Regions from separate parts of the Homo sapiens genome. Here region 1 is linked to region 2. The links come from fine-mapping of genetic effects on gene expression. A gene starts in region 2. The other region holds a variant in brackets. All regions are shown on one strand. Distances are from middle to middle. Region 1 overlaps ASPSCR1 (ASPSCR1 tether for SLC2A4, UBX domain containing). Region 2 holds the start of ASPSCR1 (ASPSCR1 tether for SLC2A4, UBX domain containing).

Region 1 (8,302 bases), 39 kb before region 2:
GGGATGCTGGACCCTGCTGCCCGCTGCTGGGGAACATTCTTCACCATCTGCATCTTAGGGCTTCACCCGTCCATGCTCTGCTTGTCACCTGCTGGACTGCTCTGGGTGAGGTGCTGTGACCTCCCTGTGGCCGATGCTGGTGGCCTGGCTGGTAGTTCACCCACCTGCCCTTTTAGTGGCCTGTTTCTGGGCTCCTGGGTGCCCACTGCCCCCACCCCCAGTCCTGGACTCTCCGTGCTGGCTCCTTTCCCGGCGGCTGTGGGCCGGTGCCTGGCCTGGGCCACCTCACTGAGTCTCATGGCTCCACCAGCCACCCAGGGCTGCCCTCCTGAGTCTCGGCCGCCACCACTGCAGCTGCCACCCACCACTCCTGTGTTCACACACAACGCATCCCAAACTGATCTCCTGTGTCCTAGCTCCAAAATGCACTTGCCCACGGCCCCCCATCTCCTCAGAGCAGTGCCGTCCTTTTGGGGTCTTGGCGTAGACTCCTCCCTTGTCCCCGTCCTCCATCCATCAGAAAGGCAGAAAGGCCCTGGCTCTGCAGCCCCCTCCCTTCCCCCCACCCCGGGCATGGCAGCCAGAGTGGTCCTTTCCAACGCCAGTGCTGCTTTCCACAAAAACCTAGAGAGGACTCCCAGTTTCCTGCCATGGAGACACGGAGAGCTCATCATGCCCTGGGCCCTCAGCGTCTGGCCCACCCCTCACTCCAGCCTGTGGACCACGCTGGCGCAGCCCCGCTCTGCGCTCCCAGGACACCAGCACCTCCTGCAGGATCATGAGCACCAGGGCAAGACGGGCGGAGCTGACCCAGCACCCAGAACAGAGTTGGCACAAGGAAGGCCCTACTGGTGGCACTCCCTCAGGCCAGCCCACCTGCAGAGCAGCCACCTCCAGCCTCCAGACCCAACCCGGGCTCTGCCTTCCCTGCCTCCCCACAAGGAGAGCAGAGCCATGGCCCTCTGCCGGGGATGGGAGTGCAAGATTAGGCCGGACTCGACGAGGCCTTTCTCCACTCTCTCCCTGGAGCCCCAGCAGCGGGGCCTGCTCCCGTGTCTGCGACCACTCACGCCGTAGGGAGGCTCCCAGCCCAGACCCTGTGCAGGGCCCTGGCGCCCCCTAGTGGAGCTGCCCACGCATCTGCTTCAGCTTCTGCCACCCGAAGCACTAGGCTGGCCCTTGTCCCCTGCCCTGGGAGAGGCTCAGGCACAGAGGGCGTCTCCAGCCAGAAGTCACAGCCACTGTCACCAGAATGGTCACCACCCTGGGGGGTGCGGGGGGGAGGGCGGGGCGTGGCGCTGACACCCCCCTCCCTTCTAGGAGCTGGTGAGCAGGCTGCTGCACCTGCACTTCAAGGATGACAAGACCAAAGGTGCGGGTGGGGGTGCGGGCGGGAGGTGGGTCCCCGTGTCTGTCCTCAGGGACCCTTTCCTGCAACTCTGCAGGGCCAAGGCCTCGGGAGGGCGGGGGTATGTCTGGAGCACCCAGCCAGAGCGGTGGGTGAGGGTCCCGCATAACCTCCCCCTGCCTTGCAGTGAGCGGGGACGCGCTGCAGCTCATGGTGGAGTTGCTGAAGGTCTTCGTTGTGGGTGAGCCCAGGGCCCACGCTCCCTCCGGGCACAGCATCCGGAATTTTGCGTTTTTCCAGCGGGAAAACCAAGACGTGTTTTCCCGTTTCCCACAAGGGCCTAAACTTGGGTCTCCTGAGCCTGTTTGTCAGGTGCTGTGGCCTGGTTCTGGGGGCTGCCCGTGGGTGTTGGGGGGGGCACCGGCCCAGGCTGAGGCCCTCACTGGGCTCGGGTTTAAGATCCCCCCAGCATCCCCCACCTCTCGCGTTTCTCACCGCAGAAGCAGCAGTCCGCGGCGTGCGGCAGGCCCAGGCAGAAGACGCGCTCCGTGTGGACGTGGACCAGCTGGAGAAGGTGCTTCCGCAGCTGGTGCGTGAGCGTGGGTCGGGGCGCAAGTGGGGGTGCCCGGCTGGCTGGCCCTAAGTGCTTCTCTTCCCCACAGCTCCTGGACTTCTAGGGATCTCAGCCGTGGCTGAGGCCACCCCCAGAGGAGCCCCTGGTCCACAGAAGCAGGCCTTGTGTTTCCAGCGGCCTCTGATAAGAGGCAGGGAAGGACCTGAAGGATTTGGAGTTGATTCAAACAAGATCTCTGGGAGTCTCCAGCCTGTGCAGAAGGGGCAGGACTGCAGTGCACTGCGGGCCTTGGAGTGTCCAGTGGGGACACTGGTGTGGGAAGGGGCAGCACCTGGGGAGTCCCTGCCTCTCCTCCCTGGGACAATAGTGTGCATGCCACCCGGGGTCCTACAGGCAGGTGCTGGGAAAGGCCTGGCCAGCAGGTAGCCTGTGTGTTTGACAAACAGCAGCTGGCAGCGCTGCCTCCTGCCCACATTCCTGCCACCCGACATCAAAGCTGGCGTGTGACCTTTCCAGCCATGCGATATTCCCCTTGGAAGATGCTTCCCCAGGCTATAAATTTGTTCTCACAAAGCAACATCAATAAATCAAAACTGTCTCTCCCAGCTTGGCTTTCTTGCCATTAATCACCAAAGTCAAACTGCTTCAAAGCTGCACTTCCCGTGTGTGCCCTTCCACTCCTGGTAAGAAAGCAAAGCGCCAGGAGGATGCACTAACAAACAGCATGTGTGCGAGTGCCTCGGCCCCACCCCCAGGCGCTGTGGAGCCCGGACCACGTACATGTGGCCACCTGCCTGGGAAATGTTATTCCTACCCCAGGGGTTGGGGCAGCCACGGGGGCTGCCACCAGTGGGCAGTGGCTTCCACGAATGTTCCTGTGGTCACAGGCAGGACCAGGATGCACAGGGTGAGAGGGACCCTGGCCCAAGGCCCTGCTGAAATGAAGGCCTCCTCTTTTCCCAAGCAGTGCCAGAGAGGTGCAGGTCAGCCCCCTCGGGCCACGCCCCCTGCCCACCCTTGGAGACGCAGGGCTGTGGGACCTGTCTGGATGCCCCACCCAGGTCTGGCTGCCCTCTGACTCTCAGGGGCCTCTGGCATAAGCCCCACTTGTGCCAACGCTTGGGAAGCGGGCAGGGCCTTGGACCACTTCCCCTCCAGCCCACCTCACGTTCTCTCTCTTGTCAGAGCCCAGGACTGGAAGCACCCCAGGGGCTCTCAGCTGAGCGCCATCCTGGAGCCCCGTGCAGGGAGGGGAAAGGGTAGGGAGTCAGGCCCCAGGGTGGGAAGCACAAAAGCTGCCCCTGGGAACCATCGGAGGCGACCCAGCCTCTCTCCTGCCCTGGTGCCCGAAGACAACTTTGAGGCGAGCCTCTTCATCCTCGATGTAGCCCCAGTGGCCCCGGGCAGGCAGGGCTGCTGGGATCCACCCCTTCCCCGCCCTGCCCACCTCAGTAGGTCAGTTTGAAAGCCCTGGGAGCCTGTAGAAGTCATCAGACTTGCTGGGGAGGCTGGCTGCAGGGTGGACCAGGGCCAGAACCCAGCACTATAGCCCGCTCGGGGGCAGCAGGAGGCCTGAGGCCAGGCCCTGCCCTACGGATGTGGGGTGACCTACTAGCTCCTCCCCCAGCTCCTGGCCCAGGGCTTGGCTCCTGGGTTGCAGGTGATTTCCCCCAAAAGACTTTCCTCAAGCACTTCTGTTCTCCTTGGAGGAAGTGTAAATAACTGTTAGGTTAAAAACGAAGAGGAGACCCACGCGGGTTCAGGATGCACACCACGGTCCACCAGGCTCCTCAGGGGCCCACACCATGGTCCACCAGGCTCTCAGGCCTGGACACTGCGGTCCAGCTGAGCCAGGGCAGACGACGGGGGCCCTTTTCTGGAGGAAGCATGACAGGAAGGCGTTGAGGGATGCACAAGTCTTTATTCCTGCTGGCAGAGGAGGTGGTCCTGTGGCTGGCGGAGTGGGCACCTCAGGCTGGCAGCTCTCACCTCTTGCTGGCTGTAGTGCAGACACATCAGGGTGACCACACACCCCGGGCTCTCACCACCCGGCCACCCGCCCACCAGCCCGGCTGAAGCACTCGGCCCTGCCGGCCACAGCACCTAGCCCCCCAGCCCACTGACCCTGCCACAGCACCCGGACCCCCGCCCTCCACCCGGCCACAGCACCCCACCTTCCACCCAGCCGCAGTACCCGGCAGCTTCAGCCACTTGGGCACCTTGCCCAGGCTCCTCTTCACGGGCTGGGCCGTCCCTGGGATGGGCTCAGGGGGGACCAGCGCCCCCTCCTCAGCAGCTGGCTCAGACTTAGGTGCAGGGTCAGGGGCTGGCAATGGGGAAGGGGACCCGGCGGCCCTGGACATGTACC[T/C]GTGGGGAGGCGAAGACACAGAGTGGTGAGTGCCGCCACGGGAGGTGCCCCCAGACCCACCGGCACTTACCTGGCCACCAGCACATCGGCCGCAGATGGGGAGATGGCATGCTCCAGCAGGCCAGGCTCCAGGTAGACACCTGCAGGGAGGCCCAAGCTCACCCTGAGCCTCTGAGGAGGGGTCCACTCACCATCCACCCAGCATCTGCCCACCAGCACTCAGCTCTGGGAGGGGGGTGGCCAGCAGGTGGCTGTCCCAGTCCTCTCTCGGGGAGGTGGTTACTGGGGGCCGCAGATCTCCCTCTCAGACCCAAAGGAGGCCCCAGACCGAACGCCCTCCCGGGCAGCTGGCTCTGAGGTCCAGGGACAGGCTGGCTGGACTCCGACACTGGCCCCAACCACTGACACTCACCTGCCGGCTCCTCGGCTCCCAAGTGCACCAGAGCGGCCGGGAAGAGGTTCGCCTGCAGGGAGGGCGGGGGGCTCAGGGGCCGGGTGTGGGCAGAGCACCCCCCTGCTGTGAAGGCAGCTACACCCCCAGGGCCAGGCCCCAGCTCCACCCTCAGACAGGCTCTGCCTGCCCGGCCCCCATGAGCCCATCGCCCAGCTTCCTGTCTGACACCAGCCCTACCCCTGTAAGCAAGGCCAGGGCGTCCTGGGACCAGCGCCCTCCATGGGACCACCCCAAGCCCCAAGCCAGCTGAAGGCTGGGGCCTCGAGGGTCCTCAAGCCATGCAGCATCACCGTCCTCCCTCCTCTGGCCTCTGCACCCGAGGAAGGTGGGGCCAGGCGTGGCGGGTCCTGGCGGATGCGCCGGGACCACCGTGGAGGGGTGCAGCTGCCAGGCTGGGGTATCCCCCTCCCAGCTCCAGATTCCCCCTCCCGGCTCCAGGCTGCTCAGGGCCACAGGCTGGGGGTGGGAGTGGGGCTGGGGGATGTTAAAAGATTAATAAGAGGAAGCTTCAAAGGCCAGGCCCAGGAACGCCGAAACCTCAGCCTCCAGCCGGGGGCCCAGGGACACAAACAAGGGCCGTGAATGCTTTGAAAACCCAATTGTGCCGCCTGGGATCAAAGCCTTGTGAGCAGAGAAGGGCCTGTGGGGTGGGCAGGGGCTGCCCGAGTGGCCCTGGAGAGGCGCCGGAAGCTGGGGAGCCAGGAAGGGGGCACGGGGAGGACAGCGCCAGGAGCTGCCATGGTCTCAGCCTCTCCCAGATGGAGAGCATGCTCCGCCACCACCGGGCCTCCAAGATTCACACCCAGGCTGCGGCTGCTCACAGAAGCCCAGGGGACACTGCCCAGAGGCTGCTGTGGGCACAGGAGCCCTGGCCAGCCCCATCTGCATCCCACCTGCTGCCGGGCGAGAGGGCTCCCTCAGAGGCCACCGATGCAGAGAGGCACCTGGTTCTCATCATAGCCCCCACAGGCCAGGACCCCCAACCAGCACTGCCCCACGGGACGCACAGAAAGGGGCGGGCAGGACTCGGGAACACCAGGAGAGGGAAGTAGGCTTGGCAGCCAGGCCTGGGGCACCTGGGCTCCCTGTCTGCGCCTCTGTGCAGGGAGCACTGAGCCAGGCAGCCTACCCGGCCTGTCCCCACGTGCTTGTGCCCAGCCTTGACTCGGGAGGGATCGCCACTGCTCGGACGAGGGGATGGTGGAGAGGAGGGTCGGCAGACTGGGTGGCATGGAGGCTGACCAGTGCTTGGAGAGGCTCGGCCTCTGGATGGACCCCAAAAAAGAAGCCTCCCAGAGTCCACGTCGCCTCCATCTCCTACCACTGGCAAGCGTGTTCTCTGCTCTGGTCCCAGGCACCGTTTCAGCGAGGGACCCAGGGTGAATGGAGCCACCCGGTCACCAAGCTGGGGCTGGAAAGGGAAAGTGGGTCACACCGTCCCCCCAGCCAGAGCAGGGCCCGGGAAGGGCCTTTGAGGGAGGCACAGGCTGAGGGGCCTCTCCCCACCAGCACTGTCCCAGGATGTCTCAGGCTGCCCCTGCCTGGCTCCCTCGGCTGACAGGGAGAAGTGGGGGTGCCCGCCCTGCCCTGACACAGCCTGAGGGCCTGGAGCCGGCCCCTCCCTAGCTGCCGCCCAGGACACTGGGGCCCCAAATCCAGCCGCCTCTCTGCTGCCAACCCCTTGCCCCACTCAGTGTTGCCAGGAAGAGCTTCCGAAAGGAGGCCCACGTCAACCCCCACGGGGCAGCAACTCTGTAGGGGCTGCATGCACACGTGGCCCAGCGCCTGGCCGCCCCCTCCAACGAGAACAGCACCACCCTCCGGGGAACGAAGCCAAGAGAGGAGCCCTTGCAGCTCAAGACGCCCGGGAGGGAGGCGGCACCACAGCGCCTGGGAGGGAGGCGGCACCACCGTGCCCGGGAGGAAGGCGGCACCACAGTGCCTCGGCAGGGAGATGGCACCACAGAGCCCGGGAGGGAGGCAGCATCATGGTGTCTGGGAGGGAGGTGGCACCACGGTGCCCGGGAGAGAGAAGGCACCACGGTGCCTGGGCAGGGAGAGACGGGGCATCCACCCACAGAGCGGGAGTGGGGGCTGCAGGAGCCATCCTGCCTTCTGCAAGACCATTTGTCAACGAGGAACATTTCAGAGGGTCCAGGTGGGGTAGGGCCTGGTGGGTGGAAGGAAGGGGGCCTGTTGGTCCCAGAGAGGCCCCGGCAGTGGGCGACACGGCAGTGCAGGACGGGGCTGTCCTGGGTGGAAAGGAAGGACGACAGAACTGGCTAGGGGCGGGCGCCCAGCAGGCACTCAGGCCAGAAGTGCCAGTCACGCCCTGCCAGGTGAGTGGCTTGGGGAGTGGGGAACCAGGCAGCAAGGGTGGCCTGTGTCCTGGCAGACGGTCCCCAGAGGCAGCCTGAGAGCTCCAACAAACGGAGGGTGTTAGGAGCCAGGCTTGCCCTGCCAAAGCCAATGGAAGGAAGCCCAAACAGCAGAGCCTTTGAAGAGATAAGTGAGGTGACCGTGACATCAAAGGTGGGCCTAGCCCAGGGTGACCTTCCTCATGACCTGAGGACGCGGACCGCACACAGAAGTGACTGTGTGAGGACACCAGGGCAGGGCCAGCCCTGATGCCCAGGGCCAGGACGCAGGTTTCAGGCAGGGGCGGGGGGCTTTGTTCCCCACAGTGGTGCCCCCACACTGCTCACAATTCCCTGTCCTCACTCCTGGCCGCCTCCTCCCAGCCCTCCCAGAAAACCTGCACTCTCCTGGGCCAGGGCCACAGAGGGCTGCCGGGCTACCGGAGCCCCCACACCCACGCACGCTGTCCCTCTCGGAAGCCGGGGGCCGGCCCCTGGACATCCCCCAGGCAGCAGGCAGCCGGAGTGGGGCTCTGCCAGAGACGTGAAAGCTGGTGCTTCCGCGCCCGCCGCCTGCTTGCCTGCCAGGGAGGCAGGCTTCCTTCCCTCAGCCCCGCCAGCTCTCTGACGGCAGGCAGGCAGGCAGGCACGTCACCGGGGACACCACCCCGAGAGGCCCCGAGGCTAGAGCCGAGCTGATGGAGGGCAGGAGACGGTGGCTGGTAGGGAAGCCAAGCGTCCCCAGAAACAGGGCAGCAGCACCCCAGTGCTCTCAGGGGCCTCCCAGCGGGAGGGTGGGCTGCAGGCCTGGGCACTGGTCCTCCTCCATCCCAAGGCATCTTCCAAATTCAATGTTTATCAACTGGCTGGCCAGCAAGGGAGGGGATGGAGACGGAGGAAGGAGGCCCGGAGTCCGCCCGGCAGCTCGGGGGCTGAGAGGGGACTGTCTCACCCCTCCCCTGCCTCCGCTGCAGGGAATCCCGCTCAGTCCTGCTCCTGATCACCCCTGGCAGCTGCCAGCCTTCTTGCCCCAGCTCAGTAAGCGGCTGCAGCCCCAGGCAGTGAGCAAGCTTCTCACCTCCAACCCAGGCCTCTGTAGAGGCCTGTGGCCACTTAAAAAAAAACCCGCCTCTGTGGCTAATTAAAATATCTGAAGAGGCTTTGAAGAGGAAACCATTAGGCCAGAGGGCTTCGGAAGGCC
Region 2 (8,311 bases):
ACTGGCCAGAAAAGTGAGTCTGGAAATTGCCACATGAAATGTCTACGTCAAGACAGGATAGCAGATCGGGGGATCCCGAGGGCAGGCAGGCTGGGAACCTTGGAGCGGAGGGCACTGTTCACGCCTGGGGCTGCATTCCTCTGCACCGGCTGCACTTTGTAAGCAAGTGGTACCATTAGCAGAGGAAAAGGGCACCTGAAAACATGGCTATGGTATTGCAGGACCTGCCTCAAAATCGCACTCACTGGTTCCCACCAGACACCACCACACAGACCACGGGCAGGTGAACACTGAGAAGTAACAATGCGCTGGGCGCGGTGGCTCATGCCTGTAATCCCAGCAATTTGGGAGGCCCAGACGGGCAGATCACTTGAGGTCAGGAGTTTGAGAGCAGTCTGGCCAATGTGGTGAAACTCCGTCTCTACTAAAAATACAAAAATTAGCCAGGCATGGTGGCACAGGCCTGTAGTCCCAGCTACTCGGGAGGCTGAAGTGGGAGGAGTGCTTCAACCCGGGAGGCGGAGGTTGCAGTGTGCCAAGATCGCGCCATTGCACTCCAGCCTGGGCGACAGAGCGAGACTCCGTCTCAAAAAAAAGAAAGAAAAATGAGGCCAGGTGCAGTGGCTCACGCCTATCATCCCAGCACTTTGGGAGGCCAAGACGGGCGGATCACTTGAGGTCAGGAGTTTGAGACCAGCCTGGTCCACATGGTGAAACCCCGTCACTACTAAAAATACAAAAATTAGCCAGGCGTGGCACGTGCCTGTAATTCCAGCTACTCAAGACGCTGAGGCACAATAATCGCTTGAACCCGGGAGGCAGAGGTTGCGGTGAGCTGAGATCATGCCACTGCCCTCCAGCCTAGGTGACAGAGCAAGACTCTGTTTCAGAAAAATGGCCAGGCACAGTGACTCATGCCTGTAATCCCAACACTTTGGAAGACCAAGGCGGGCAGATCACCTGAGGTCAGGACTTGAAGACCAGCATGACCAACATGGTGAAACCCCGTCCCTACTAAAAATACAAAAATTAGCTGGGCATGATGGCGCACGCCTGTAATCCCAGCTACTCGGGAGGCTGAGGCAGAAGAATCACTTGAACCTGGGAGACAGAGGTTGCAGTGAGCCGAGATAGCGCCACTGTACTACAGCCTGTGTGACAGAGCGAGACTCCACCTCAAAAAATAATAAAATAAAAAAGAAATAAAAATGAAACCCTAAGCCCCCCCCAACCAACTGAACCAGCCTCCTCTTGGCCCAGGGGACCCCAGAAACCTTGAAAGCTGAGTTCCTGGCCATGGCTGGGTGGGAGATCAGACACATCTGCAGGCTCTCTTCCCTAAGGGATAAACAGAAAGCAGCCCTTTCCAAAGACCCCTGGGCTGGTATCTGACATCAGCCAACCTCCCGCCAGGCCCTTCTCTCTTGCGGTTTCTTCAAAACAACCCACAGGTATTTCCTGATAAGAAACCACCAACCATGGAGTGGTTCTGGCACAGTCAGGGTTTTCGTGGCACAGTCTTCATGTCCTCTGATTTGCCATTTATTTATTTATTTACTTATTTACTTTTTTTGTAGAGACAGGGTCTCACTATGTTCCCCAGGCTGATCTCGAATTCCTGGGCTCAGGCAATCCTCCGCCTCGGGCACCCAAAGTGCTAGGATTACAGGCATGAGCCACTTCACCCAGCCTGCTTCACCTCTGACTTCAGAGGCCAAAAATTCCACCCTCAGGTCATGCTGGCACTGCCATTTTTTGCACATAGGACCCGTGAAGAGGCAGGAAGCTCAACTGTGTGCACAGTTCTCCTTTCATGAATACTCATGATCCTCCTACAGCGTATTAAGTACGTCTGTATCAGCCACCCCATTCGGTGTAAATCCCTGTCTTATTCTTCCCTCTCTTGAAGTGTCTGTTTCCAGCTTCTGGCTGGAGGCTACACTTCCCAGCCTGTTAGAATGGCCACCCTGCAAGCTGCAACCGGTTATGAGAAATAAAGCCCTCCTTTCCAAACATATGAACCGCATTCTTCAGTTGACAAGAGAGACTGGAGAAGGATGGTGTGAAGGTCTGGGGCAGAAAGCCCAAGACCACCTGGCATTCAGAGCACAGGTCCTGGGATTCTCACGTGGTCCAGACACAAGGTAGAAGACTGGAATGACTTGGCAGGTATCACCCCTAAGAAACTCCTCCCAGGAGAGCCTCGTAAGGCAGGGTGGGCAATGCCAGGAGGGCAAGCTCCTGCCCTCTGCCCCCAGTGTTAGGACAACAGTACTGTAAAAACAGGTCTTCAAGGGCAGGCATGGTGACTCATCTCTGTAATCCCAGTACTTTGGGAGGCCAAGGCAGGCGGATCACAAGGTCAGGAGTTCTAGACCGTCCTGGCCAATGTGGTGAAACCCCATCTCTACTAAAAATATAAAAATTAGCTGGGTGTGTTGGTGAGCACCTCTAATCTCAGCTACTCGGGAGGCTGAGGCAGGAGAATCACTTGAACCTAGGAGGTGGAGGTTGCAGTGAGCCAAGACCGTGCCACTGCACTCCAGCCTGGGCGACAAGAGTGAAACCCTGTCTCAAAAACAAAACAAAACAAAAAAAACACCAGAAAACAGGACTTTAAAGTGAAAAGCTTCGCGTGTGGGATAGACACGCACATCCTATCCATATGAGGGCTCTGACCCTTCTGCTGTCTCAGACTCCTTGAGAGTCTGGCAGAAGCCCTCTCTTGGGAACAATATCCCCACACAGAAGCGTACGTGTAATTCCAGGGGCTGTGAGACTGCAGGGATCCACCTGCAGTTTTCAAGGCATCCTATTTCTCCACGGCCAGCTCTTTCCCCTCAGAGCCCCACTGGGAACTTATGCAACTCAATGCAATAAAACCTACAGGGGGTTGAATGGTGGCCCCCCCAAAAAAGATGGGTCAATGTCCTCACCCCCAGGACCTCTGAACATCTTACTAGGGATCCTGGTCTTTGAAGATGTAATGATAAATCGTTCTAGATTATCCAAGTGGACCCTAAATCCAATGACAAGGGTCTTCCTGAGACACAGAGAAAACAGGAAAAGGCCACAAGAAATCGGAGGCAGAGAGCAATGCGGCCACAAGCCACAGAACGCTTGGAGCCATGAGAAGCTGGAAGAGGCAGGAGGGATTCTCCCTTAGGGCATTTGGAGAGAGTGTGGCCCTGCCAAGGCCTTGGGTCTCCAGAGTTGGGAGGGAATATATGACTGTTTAAAACCACCTGGGGGCTTTTCCAAGTGAGAGCCAGTATGTTCAGGGGGCAGGGGCACAGATATACTCAGACCCTGCTGCTGAGCTGGAGCAAACTCACTTCAGATCATATTCACAGGGGTTGAAGTCCTGCCGCCGGCACGTGTCCTCCAGAACCTGGGGGTGAGATGAAAGGATGGTGAACTGCTGAGTGTGCAGGGCTGGCGGGCGCAGTGGGCCAGGTCAGCCAAGGGCATTCAGCTTCCTGGTGAGCCAGGTGGCTCTGCCCAGGCAAAGCCAAGCACAAGACCACACTATGGACGGTCCCCGCAACAAATGCAGGCTCTCACCTGCAAATCCTGTCCACTCTCCCTCCCTTCTTCACCATCCCCTCAGTTTTGTAGGAAAGCTCCACTCAGAGTTCCCCTGCAGTACAGCAACACGGGCATCTTCCTGGCACACACCCTGGGCTCTCCTTCAAACCCTGTAGTTCTGCAACCTGCCTTAAACTTGCCTAGCACAAGCTACCCCCTGGCTCTGGCACGGTTCTGTGCACCTGCTGCCACTGCCTGCACCGCCTCCGCCCCTCTTCTCCATAAAAAGCCAAAGCCGTGGCCTTGCACCAAGGGGTCCCGCGCAGCCTCTGCGGGAGCGCCCCACTTCCGCACTCTGCACGCCTGGCACCAACAGCCTCCTGGCTGCGCCCTCCACCTGCCCAGGCCTGGGGACCCCACGCCGTGGGCTGCTCCCGCAAACTCCGAGTCGTGTGCACCTTCGGATCCTCACGGTCCCCCACGCAGCAGAGGCTCAATAAATACTTTTTTTTTTTTTTTTTGATATGGAGTCTCGCTCTGTCTCCCAGGCTGGAGTGCAGTAGCGCGATCTCGGCTCACTGCAAGCTCTGCCTCCCAGGTTCACGCCATTCTCCTGCCTCAGCCTCCCGAGTAGCTGGGACTACAGGCGCCCGCCACCACGCCCGGCTAAATTTTTTTGTATTTTTTTAGTACAGACGGGGTTTCACCGTTTTAGCCAGGATGGTCTTGATCTCTTGACCTCGTGATCCACCCGCCTCGGCATCCCACAGTGCTGGGATTTACAGGCGTGAGCCACCGCGCCCAGCCAATACTTTTACATTTAATTGATTCGCGGTCACAAGGTGCCCAAGTAAAAGTGCAGTGAGTGACTCGGCAAAAATCGCTTCCAGGCCCCACGGCCGGGACATCTGCCACCGCGCAACCCGGGCTCCCGCTCCGGGGGACGCCCCGGAATGGGAACGCGGGTCTAGGGCTCCACTCCTCCCTCTTCCCGGCGCCCTCGCGAGCTGGGCTCGGCCGGGCGCCGAGTACTCGATGCGGGTGACACGCGGCGCCGTTCTACCTCACCCCTGGGAAGGCTCGCCACCGCCCCGCCCCCACTCGGGACCCCCGGGACCCCCGGGACCCCAGCGGAAGCGCAGGTGACGGCGAGCAGGGGGCGGGGCCGCCGCTCAGGAGGCCGCTCATTGGCCGCCGAGGCCCCGCCCCCGAACACCGGGACGCCGACCGCAATGGGCGGGGCCTCGGCGCAGCGCCCCCCGCCCGCCTACCCGTCCGCCCCGGGCGGGCGGCCGCACCTGAAGCAGCACGGTGCTCGGCGTCACCTTCACCGTGTGGCGCCGGCCGTTCGGGGCCAGCACCGACACCGCGGAGCCTCCGCCGCCTGCCGGGGCCGCCATTTTCCGCTCACGTGACCCGCCGCCGGGCCGGCGTCAAACAACTTTATCGGCAACAGCCAGGACGCGCAGCCACGCGGCCAGGGGGCGGGGCCGCAGCGCACTTCCGGGTCCTGCCAGGCCCCGCCCTTTCCCCACCCACGGCGCCCCGGCCCCGCCCTTGGGCCGCCAAAGCCCGCGCCAGACCCGGAAAGCGCGGTCGTCCTCTGCCTCCGGGAAGCGCGGCTTGGATGGGCTCGCCGGGGCCAGGCTGGGCCGGGGCTGGGCGCGCGGTCACCCCCGGTGAGCGGCACTGAGCCCCGGGGTCCCAGCGGTCCGCGCTCGCCCACCCTCGCTTCGTCCCTGACACGTCCCCAGCTCGGTGCCCTGCTCTCCCCCGACCCTCCCGGCTTCCTCCACTCCAGCAGCTGAGCCTCTTCCCTGCCCACCTGTCCCTGTGGTCAGCGTCCACCTCCTGACCTTATGGTTTGGGGCAGTCCCCCCGCCCCTGTACGGATCCTCCCTGGGTGTTGGGACTCGTGGCCCTCAGTCTAGACCTGATTTCTTTCATCCTAAAATGGGAGTGCAGAATCTGGCAGCCCTAGGGCTGCCGCGACGGTCCCTAAACCTGAGGGTAGGAAAGGCGGGAGACCGGTTTCAGAACCGTGGGGTGAGCGAACTTGAGTCTCACCGGAGCTCCTGCCGACCCACAGGCACTCAAGGACTTCCCGCACCAACCCATGCTGAGGAGGGGCTTGGTGGCAGCCTCAGGAAACACTCCCATCGCCAGCCACCGCAGCAGGGAAAGCACCTGGCCTCACCAGCTCCAGGCTTCCAGAAGGAGCTGCCCTCCTGACTCGCAGCCGTCGAATGTGCTTAGCTCCCAGCACCTGGGCCACTCATGGACAGCACTCGCACGTGTTCCGCCCCGCCCCCCACCTCCATGGCTCAGCCGGGCCTTGGCACTCCTCTCTCCATGTGCCTGCCTGTCTCTGCGGACTCCTGGCTAGGGCTCAGCTGCCCAGTAGCCTGTGGAAGGGGGAACTGGTGCAGTTATCAGTCAATCCTCCCACAGGGCTGGGATTACACACGTGAGCCACCGCACCCGGCAGTCATTGCTGAGTCTAAGGACATCTCTGCATGGGTGCTGTTGTGCCTTCCTGTCGATGACATATCCATGTCACCCACACACACCTGTATGCTGACAAACACGGACATCTATGTACATTGGAGAAACCTGGGGAAAGCCCCAGGCTAGCCATAGCCCTCCCATCCAGCCAGCCAGTCCCATGCTCTGTGCAACCTCAGAACCTTACTGAGCCACACATCACCTGGTGGGTTTTAATTCTTTAGTGGCGTTTTTGAAGAGTCTGTTCCTATTTTCCTTAGACTGTCCCACAGTCTGGATCCTTGGTTAAACGTTTGGGGCAATGATGAAGGGAGGTGACAAGTCAGCAGGAGGTGCAGGACATCAGCGTGGCCATGAGTGAGGACGTGAAGTTGAACCACTTGGTCAGCTTTGGGTCTGCTGAATTCCTCCATGGTCAAGGTCCGTGGCTCCTTGTGGAGTAATTAAGGCATGCGTGAGGTCATTCTCTGAGACCACAAGCATCAAGTTTTCCCAATAACCATTTGCCCAACAGTTTTAGCATCAGTTAATGAGTAGATTCAGTGTTAAACCGTAAAGCTGCAAAATCATGGCTTCCCAAGTTTATTGTTTCTTCTACATTTATAGTCACTTTCGGTCAAGCTTCCCCTTCTTTAAAAAGTTATTAAATATTTGGGAGGCTGAGGCAGGAGAATGGCGTGAATCCGGGAGGCAGAGCTCGCAGTGAGCTGAGATCACGCCACTGTACTCCAGCCTGGGAGACGGAGCAAGACTCTGTCTCAAAAAAAAAAAAAAAAAAAAAATTAAATATGGCCAGGCGCGGTGGCTCACGCCTGTAATCCCAGCACTTTGGGAGGCTGAGTTGGGCAGATCACAAGGTCAAGAGATTGAGACCATCTTGGCCAACATGGTGAAATCCTGTCTCTACTTAAAAAAAAAGTACAAAAATTAGCCGGGCATGGCGGTGCGTGCCTGTAATCCCAGCTATTCGGGACACTGAGGTAGGAGAATCACTTGAACCTGGGAGATGGAGGTTGCAACGAGCCAAGATCGCACCATTGCACTCCAGCCTGGGCGACAAGAGTGAAACCCCATCTTGAAATATATATATTTATTAATATGAATTCATGTATTTTTTTCATTCAGTCAGCATTCTTTTTGATGCTCAAATTGGTCCGAATTTGGCCAGTGAGACCTCCTTTAAGCTGGCTCCTATGCTTTTTTTGATAGGAGGGATGATCTTTTATCCTGATATTATTTCAAACTTAGCCGAGCAAGGTGGCTCACACCTGTAGTCTTAGCTACTCCGGTGGCCGAGGCAGGAGAATTACTTAAGTTCCAGCCTTAGTGAACCACTATTCATGCCTATGAATAACTACTGCACCCCAGCCCGAGCAACGTAGTACGATACCGTCTCAAAAAAGGAGAAGGAGAAGAAAGAAGAAGAGGGAGGAGGAAGGAAGAAAGAGAAGAAAAGTTTGCAAAAGCAAGAATTCCTGCTGTATATCTTTTTTTTTTTTTTTTTTTTTTGGAGATGGAGTCTCCCTCTGTCGCCAGGCTGGAGTGCAGTGGCGAAATCTCAGCTCACTGCAACCTCTGCCTCCCGGGTTCAAGCGATTCTTCTGCCTCAGCCTCCCGAGTAGCTGGGACTACAGGTGTGCAGCACCACACCCAGCTAGTTGTTGTTTTGTTTTGTTTTGTTTTTTGAGACGGAGTCTCGCTCTGTTGCCCAGGCTGGAGTGCAGTGGTGCAATCTCGGCTCACTGCAAGCTCCGCCTCCCGGGTTCACATCATTCTCCTGCCTCAGCCTCCCGAGTAGCTGGGACTACAGGCACCTGCCACCATGCCCGGCTAATTTTTTGTATTTTTAGTAGACATGGGGTTTCACCATGTTAGCCAGGATGGTCTCAATCTCCTGACCTCGTGATCCACCCGCCTCAGCCTCCCAAAGTGCTGGGATTACAGGTGTGAGCCACCACGCCCAGCCTCCTGTATATCTTTTAGCCAGATAAATCAGTGTTTACATGTCACCCCATTTGTTTTATCATATTCTCTTTCTCTCTCTCCATATACATGTAAAAACTTTTTCTGGCCAGGCACAGTGGCTTACACCTATAATCCCAGCACTTTGGGAGGCCAAAGTAGGAGGATCATTTGAGCCTAGGAGTTTGAGACCACCCTAGGCAACATAGTGAGACCCCAGCTCTACAAAAAATACAAAGGTTAGCTAGGCATGGTGGCATGTCCCTGTAGTCCCAGCGATTTGAGAGATTGAGGCAGGAGGATCACTTGAGCCCAG

Evidence for each region.
Region 1: its variant is fine-mapped to the expression of ASPSCR1 in whole blood (TOPMed, PIP above 0.99).

What each region holds. Positions count from the first base shown.
Region 1 is chr17:82,012,928-82,021,229 of GRCh38, reverse strand. ASPSCR1 (ASPSCR1 tether for SLC2A4, UBX domain containing) reads right to left here. Exons shown (of 16, transcript NM_024083.4): 13 at 4,703-4,754; 14 at 4,361-4,430; 15 at 4,117-4,289; 16 at 3,824-3,921. The coding sequence ends at 3,908. It overlaps CENPX (centromere protein X), which reads left to right. Exons shown (of 5, transcript NM_001271006.2): 2 at 1,321-1,372; 3 at 1,536-1,589; 4 at 1,849-1,937; 5 at 2,011-2,527. The coding sequence ends at 2,025. Among named protein-coding and RNA genes, the nearest start is that of CENPX, 5.8 kb to the left of the region's middle. RefSeq lists enhancers at 1-97, 4,067-4,788, 5,512-6,233 and a silencer at 5,263-5,557. The variant T/C (reference allele first, on the strand shown) is at 4,291.
Region 2 is chr17:81,974,264-81,982,574 of GRCh38, reverse strand. It overlaps ASPSCR1 (ASPSCR1 tether for SLC2A4, UBX domain containing), which reads right to left and starts at 4,946. Exons shown (of 16, transcript NM_024083.4): 1 at 4,827-4,946; 2 at 3,336-3,391. The coding sequence starts at 4,928. LOC124904087 (a long non-coding RNA gene) reads right to left here. Exons shown (of 2, transcript XR_007065951.1): 2 at 6,240-6,464. It overlaps LOC105371939 (a long non-coding RNA gene), which reads left to right and starts at 5,090. Exons shown (of 2, transcript XR_933953.4): 1 at 5,090-5,207; 2 at 5,618-6,607. RefSeq lists a silencer at 4,451-5,310 and enhancers at 4,789-5,560, 5,561-6,334.